Linked DNA regions of Homo sapiens. The protein of the gene in region 1 purifies or fractionates together with the protein of each later gene. This does not show direct contact. Each region holds a gene or a part of one and is shown on either strand. Other genes may lie near its edges.

The links.
Region 2: the proteins of SCO1 (region 1) and NELFB fractionate together in Homo sapiens (co-fractionation; one large-scale study listed by BioGRID). This does not show direct contact.

Annotation. Positions count from the first base shown.
Region 1 is NC_000017.11:10,683,761-10,687,841, forward strand, and holds part of SCO1 (protein SCO1 homolog, mitochondrial), read right to left. Parts: intron 3,083-4,081; coding exon 2,967-3,082; intron 1-2,966. UniProt on the Homo sapiens protein: Copper metallochaperone essential for the maturation of cytochrome c oxidase subunit II (MT-CO2/COX2). Not required for the synthesis of MT-CO2/COX2 but plays a crucial role in stabilizing MT-CO2/COX2 during its subsequent maturation.
Region 2 is NC_000009.12:137,268,537-137,272,326, reverse strand, and holds part of NELFB (negative elongation factor B), read right to left. Parts: intron 247-3,790; coding exon 105-246; intron 1-104. UniProt on the Homo sapiens protein: Essential component of the NELF complex, a complex that negatively regulates the elongation of transcription by RNA polymerase II.

The sequences.
Region 1 (4,081 bases):
GCAGATCCAGCTTTCTATGGAATTCCAAATATTTGGTATACCCAGTTCGATCACTCTGAAGAGTCCACTCAAAAGCCAGAAGCTTGCCTGTTGTTGCTGTCGTTTGGGATTAAGAAAACTTCATTCCATTACATCTCAACATTAACCTTAAAGGTACCCCCTTACTTCCTGCAGGTCCTTAAATGATAACAGAAGTTTCCCAAACCATCCTATGGATGAAAATCTGTGACCTCAAGGGACTGAAGTCATACTAATGAAAAACCTAAGAAGCTGAAGAATGTCTCCCCCTATTGGATGATTTAGCAAATGTACAGCATGAATTCCTCATCGAATCTCATCAAAAGTCAAATTCTTATGGCAGTAGGCCAGTATTTCTCAAAATGGGGCCAAAGATACATTCTACAAGGTCCAAGAAGTTTCCATAAGACTTACATATTTTTGTTTTCATTTGTAATTAAAAACATTAATATCCATATTCTGGATTATCTGTGTTGTGAGTATAAATTTCAGTGCCCAGGCTTGTGTTTGCTCCATGATCTCACTGGCACCTAGCTGCCCACTGCTGTTACAGGCAGACATGAATATGATACATTCTTGCCAAATCAACACTAACCAGGCAAGGCAGGCTACACGATTAAAGGTTTCAAAGTATTTTAAATAGAAAATGCAGAGGGGCAGTTGAGTAGAGTTGGGTATGTGATAGCAGTCTGACCAAAACCCCCTCCCTTCTTGCCCTGAGCAGCACTTTGGTTTCAGCAAAATCTCTTGTCAATGTAACTGAATGTTTTCAATTTAAGTTTTGCAGGCTGTTTGGGTTTATTTGTACAACTGCTTTCTGATTTGACTTTCTGACTCTGAGTTATGAGTTCTAAGCATCAAGACTATGGAGTGTTACCTAGTTTAGGACTGTATACATTTAAACAATTTAATATAACTCATTTAATGCTGGAAATCAGACTGATGAGCTCATCTATTCCTGCTGTCATCATCGGATAAACTCAAAACCAGTTAATACAACTCTCTATAAAGACAGAAGTCCGGAAAGTCCTTTTCCTATGGTTTCCTCTTTTGGCCACTGTGGCTCTCTGCTCTTCTCTCATTCTGCTAGAGAAGCAGCAAGAGGAAAACAGAGGAGGGTCCCTCTACTTTCCTTACAATTAAGGCTTAAAGAAAAGTGCTCATTTTTCTCATCTTTTACTCCAAGGAATCCAAGTTTCCCTAATTCTACGAGGCACCACATCTGGAAGACAGGATTACTGTGTAGGCTTAATTAAGGCAAACAGGCCAGAACCTTGCTTTTAATTCAGGCTGTAGGCTCCAGGGGCACACACGTTCCAGGTTCAAAGGGACAAAGAAATCATAGTTGGCTGTTGAGACAAAGCACTGCAGTGAGACATCCCATCCCCTCTGCATCTCAACTCTTGGGATGGGCCATGGGGAGCTGCTGGATCAGTGACTCAGGGTCTTGGCCATCTTTCTTTCTACAAAGACAGCTTCACAGCTAGAAAGGCTCTTAGGATTACTCTGCCCAAACAATATTATAGAAAAAACAGAGTATGACAACTAAGAAAAATACTGAAATAATGCTAAAATACAACGCCGACTCTTCATATGATAGGAGAAAAATGTCCAAATTGAGAGGAAAATTGGTGGATAGTGGTGGTGCTAATGCCTTTTGGTGCTTCACTGTGAAACCACTGACAAGAAAAGAAACACAGTAACTTGGGCATGACCTTAAGGCTTCTGGGGCAGTGCTGATGAATATGAAGATAGTTAATTTAAGAGCTACACAAGTACAACAGAATTTCTGTTCCTTATCATTAAAAAGCACATATTTAACGCCTAACTGTCCAAGGCATATAGTCAATGGGCAAATAAACCTTTCATCTTTTGCTTTTCAGAATTCTCATTCAACCTAAAAATGCAGTTCTCCATGGCCTAAAACTGGTTCTCCAGAAGAGCAATTTCTGATACCTCTACTGGGGACACAGTGAGAACCAACACAATCTTTTTAAAATAAGTGTTGTTCCAAATGATGGCTTCTCTTTATTTCCAACATGGCACCCAAGTATCTGGTTTTAAACTGCCCTAAAATCCTATATGCCACTATAAGAGAAAAACAGGCAATTGAATTATGAGAACAGTGAATATAAATCAAACAATCATCTTTTAAAAAACTGCTTCTGGCTGGGCGCAGTGGCTCAGGCCTGTAATCCCAGCACTTTGGGAGGCTGAGGTGGGCAGGGCAGACCACCTGAGGTCAGGAATTCGAGACCCCCTGGCCTCGCCTGGCCAACATGGCAAAACTCCTTCTCTACTAAAAATACAAAAACTAGCCAGGCGTGGGAGCACATGCCTGTAATCCCAGCTACGCGAGAGGCTGAGGGAGGAGAATTGCTTGAATCCGGGAGGCGGAGGTCGAAGTGAGCCAAGATCGCACCACTGCACTCCAGCCTGGCTGACGGAGTGAGACTCCGTCTCGAAAATAAATAAAAAGTAAAAAACATGCTTCTATTATCCTTTCAAATATTCAAAATTCCTAAGGAGGCTGGATGCGGTGGCTCACGTCTGTAATCCCAGTACTTTGGGAGGCTGAGGCGGGTAAGGTCAGGAGTTCGAGACCAGCCTGGCCAACGTGGTGAAACCCCGTCTCTACCAAAAAATATAAAAAAGTAGCCAGGTGTGGTGGCGCGCACCTGTAATCCCAGCTACTCGGGAGGCTGACATAGGAGAATTGCTTGAATCTGGGAGGCGGAGGTTGCAGTGAGCGAAGATTGTGCCACTGCACTCCAGCCTGGATGACAGAATGAGACTCCATCTCAAAAAAAAAAAAAAAAAAATTCCTAAGGACTTTGCAATAATCTTAGGTATTCTCTCTTCTCAGAAGCTAGTCAGTCATTGAAAGCCTTATGACTATTTGGGATCTGGGAGCTGGTCCATGGGTTAAAACTGGAACATTTACTCACTATGTAGTCTTCATCTTCGTCCTTGGGGCCAGGGCTGTAATACACTCTGTATGCTCTGGCCACTTGATCGACCTCTTCTCTCGTGCCAGTCAAGCCAACCAGTTTGGGAGAAAATTCTAAATAAAAAATGAGAGAGACAGTGAAAAATGAGAAGCCAGTAAAACAACCATCTCTACTTCAAAAAATGTATCAGTTGTAAAGCAGCTCTACTGCCACTTTCTTCCTGTGAGTCTCCAAACATTTCTTCACGATTCAAAGGAAAAGGAGAAGAAATTCACAAAGAACAAATGAAAATTCTCCTTTGTAATATATAAGTCAAATCTTTTTATGACTATCTAGTAAAGACCTGGAGGGAATATTTTCTAATCACTTGTATCACATTTTAAATTGATTTTTAAGGAGTAGTCACATGTAGTTCTCAGATATACTAAAGCTTAAAATTATTATCATAAATTAAATACTATAACTTTTCATGGCATCATATGGGGAAAAAAATTTGCTTCATAACTAAGTTCATATCAGGTCAAAATACCTGTGTCTTATTTTCCTGCAAATAATTTCAACACTGGTATCAAGTTCTACTCTTTACTTCTGATTTAAAAAAACTGGTTAATTAATACTAGTCATCCCCAAAACGCAATCTTAACAAAGTTCTGAAATAAGGGCAAATCATTCACAGCGTGTATCTGCTATTAAGTTTTTGGAATTCATGTAAGTGAACCGGTAGAGGTCACTTAAAACAACTGGATTCATCAAACTACTGAAATGACAGCCCAACATTTAACAGCAGTTCCTTTTTCTAAAGGTACAGAAGCCAATTTTTGTTCCTTGGATGAACTCATCATTCTAAATGAGACATTGTTCAGATTCTGAAAAGACAGGCTTTCTTTTTCCACTCTGAGTAAATAAAGAGAAAGGTGAATGAAGCCTGAGTTAGCTGCACATTCAAACTTTTTTTAAAACTAAATTGCTGAAACTGCATTTTTTTCTAAATACCAAATTAAAGTTTTAAAAATCTCCCCAAAATGCAACTAGTAATGACTACATCATCAATCGCTATGTTCTGTTGAAAATTACCATAAAGTCTGGTGTTTTGGTTAGGTACAGCAACTCGA
Region 2 (3,790 bases), on another chromosome or scaffold:
CTGCGGACCCTCCGCCCCAGGCTGGGGACAGCAGCCACCTCTCAGGCTGCTACGGACAAGAGCTGAGAGGACAGAGCGGGCCGGATGGTACCCAGCAGGCCTACCTTGGAGAGGCGGTGAGGAAGAAGCCATCGAAGAGGCTGCTGCAGAAGTCCTCAAGGGCAAATTCGTCGGCCAGCAGCGCAAGGTTGCCCGTGAGCAGGTGGAGGAAGATGTCGCCAAAGGCCAAGTCGCCAAAGGTCTCCACTGCAGACACAGCAGGCATCAGCCCAGTGCCACTCACCCTGCCCACCCCAGAGGGCACCCTTGTCCTCAAAGACCTCAGAACCTACTTCTGGGGGTGCTCACATGAGAGTTCTCAGTTGTTCTGAGATGAGAAGCACAGGGTCTCAGCAGGTGAAGAGGGGGGTGGGAAGTGGACAGAGGCAGGCAGGGGGTGGGACCTGTGGCAGGGAAGCAGAGCTGCAGCCCAGGGACAGGAGGGTGGAGGGAGGGGGAGACAGCCCAGGGACAGGAGGAGGGTGGAGGGAGGGGGAGACAGCCCGGGGACAGGAGGAGGGTGGAGGAAGAAGGAGACAGAAAAACGAGGTGCTCCTCCAGTCCCAAAAGGCCTTGCCCAGCAGCCGAGCCCAGGAGAAACAAGCCTAACAAATACAGGGCCGGCGCCAGCTGCAGAGAGTTCTCCCTGACTGCCAGCTACACTGAACCACAGGAAAGAGAACGAAACTCTTCCACATTCTTTTCTGAAGCCAGACACCAAAACACAACAAAGACAGCATTCGTGCCCACAGACGCCTCACGTGCGACCACAGCACAGAAGCCACGGTGTTGGCAGACATTTGCCAAGAGCCAGCACAACGCCCCAAACGGGGCCCCTGCAGGGAGGGAGGGCGGCCGCCTGCAGACTGATGCCTGAAGGAGCTGTGGCCAGGCCACATGGAGGTGACGTGTGCGGACAGGTTGAGGATGGCCTTCCTAGTATCCCGGATGGGGCCTTTATGAGGACAACCCAGCTGGCGCCACCTGCGCCCAGAGTGACAGAAACATTTCCAGGAGACCCAGGCCCCCGAGGTGCCTGCCTGCCACATCTCACAGGGCCTTGGCCGGCCACATGGCCAGGTGGCCACGGGACACGTGGCAGGCACACAGTCCCGACCAGGGGATCCAGCAGCAAGGCCCCACTGGGCAAATGCCCTGATTCCTGCAACTCCGGGGAACCCAAGACTGCGAGACAGGAGAGGGGACAGCAGGCGCATCCCAACCCTGACGGGACCGTCCACACAGCAGGCAGGAGACACCTGGAGAAGCGCAGCCACTGTCAGGCAGTCAGTCGGCAGAGGAGCGGCAGTGAACCTGGCTCAGATGTGACAGTGGCCCGTGGTCCGTGGTCACTGGTTTTTATTTTTTTTGAGAAGAGTCTCACTCTGTTAGCCAGGCTGGAGTGCAGCGGTGCAATCTCAGCTCACTGCAACCTCCACCTCCCGGGTTCAAGCGATCCTTCTGCCTCAGCCTCCCTCAGCTGGGATTACACGCGTGCGCCACCGCGCCGGGCTAATTTTTCTATTTTTAGTAGAGATGGGGTTTCGCCACATTGGCCAGGCTGGTCTGGAACTCCTGACCTCAGGTGATCCGCCCGCCTCGGCCTCCCAAAGCGCTGGGATTACAAGGTGAGCCACCATGCCTGGCCAGTTTTTTAAAGGCATTTAAAGACAGTCTTATTTTTTATTTGTTTTTTTTGAGACGGAGTCTCGCTCTGTCACCCAGGCTGGAGTGCAGTGGTGCAATCTCGGCTCACTGCAACCTCTGCCTCCTGGGTTCAAGCGATTCTCCTGCCTCACCCTCCCGAGTAGCTGGGACTACAGGCATGCGTCACACACGCGGCTAATTTCTGTATTTTTAATAGAGATGGGATTCCACCATGTTGGCCAGGCTGGTCTGGAACTCCTGACCTCAGGTGATCCACCCGCCTTGGCCTCCCAAAGTGCTAGGATTACAGGCATGAGCCACCAAGCCCGGCTCCCCGCCCTTTTTTTTTTTTTTTTTTTTGAGACGGAGTCTGGCTTTGTCGCCCAGGCTGGAGGGCAGTGCCGTGATCTCGATTCACTGCAACCTCTGCCTCCCAGGTTCAAGCGATTCTCCTGTAAACGCATCCTTCTTTTGTAGAGATGCCTACGTCTGCAGCCTGCATGCTGTGATGTCTCAGATTTACACCCAGACATCGTGCTGAGGGACAGGCGGCCACACGCAGACCCCACGTGGACCCCGGGGAGGTTGGAGATGGTGCTGGGTCCTCACCGTACCATGCTCTTGACTTCGTATTCTTTCACAAATTCCCACCACAAAATGTTAAAAAATAAACAGGAGAGAATTCTAAAAATCAACATCCATTCTTACTAGAACCCGCTAAAAACTTAAGAACACGCGTGCTCTCCCCAAATGTGACTGAAAATGCACATCCCACCCCGTGGGGCAGCCACGTACTCCGAGAAGCTGCACTCCTGGTTCCCAGCCTGTTTCTAGCCACAATCAAATGAGAGAAAGAAACAGAAGCGCACGGAAGGCCTCCCAGGTGAGTCTGTCATTGTGCGAACTCCACAGTGACTGACACAAATCCAGAAGGTGCCACCCACTGCACACTGGGCTGGGCCATGGCCTCATGCCCCTGAGCTAGACACCTGCACAGCACATGGCTGTACTGAGTACTGAAGGCTGCTGGGACACAATGGCAACTGTGTATCTAAATAGAGAAAGTGGAGTAAAAATACAGTATTGTCAGCTTATGTGACCGCGTGGTCGTATATGTGGTCCACGGTAGACAGAATGTTATGTGACACGTGACTGTACTGCAGTGGGCAGGCCAAGGCAAATTAAAGTTATTTATAACTATGTTCCCGGAAGTCTCAAAAAATAAACAAACCGGCTCTGCCCGGCGGCCGGCAGCACGATGTCCCAATGCCCTCAAGAGCCTCCCTGAGCCTCCAGAAGGAGCGGCAGTGTTGGCACCCGCAGAAGCCCAGGAGGTCATGTCTGCCTGCGCTGTCTAATGCCACTGTCTGTGGTCATTCGTTCCAGCAACAACAGGAAACCCAGGCCCAGGCAACCCAAGCTCAGTGAGAGGATGGCTGGGGACAGGTTAATACCCACAGGTAACTTCCTCCACAAAGAAAGCTGGAAAACGCATGCACGCGCCATCCTCAAACACACCAGCCACCGAGAAACACAATAGGCACGTGCTGTGGTGTGGACGTGTCCCCAAGTTCACCATCGGAAACCTGATCCCCAACGCAACACTGCTGAGGTCGTGAGGGCTCCGTCCTCACCAAAGCGTTCTCGCTGTTAGCACAGGAGTGGCTCCTGATAAAAGGGTAAGTGTGGCCCCTTCTCTGTCTCCGTCTGTCTGTGTCTCATCTCTAGCTCTGTCTCTCATCTGTCTCTGTCCTGTGTCTCTCATCTGTCTGTCTCCATGTCTCTCCTGTCTCTGTCTCTCTTACCTGTCTCTCATCTCTCTGTGTCTCATCTCTGTCTCTGTGTCTCTCATCTTTGTCTCTCATCTTGGTCTGTGTGTCTCTGTCTCTCATCTCTGTCTGTGTCTGTCTGTCTCCCCTGCCCGTGCTCTCTTGCCCTCTGCCTTCCACCATGGGATGACACAGCAAAAAGCCCCAGCCAGATGCAGGCCCCTTGACCTCGGACTTCCCATCCCAGCCCGCAGAACTGGGAGAAGTCCCTGCTCTTTGTTTTTTTGAGACGGAGTCTCGCTCTGTCGCCTGGGCTGGAGTGCAATAGTGCAATC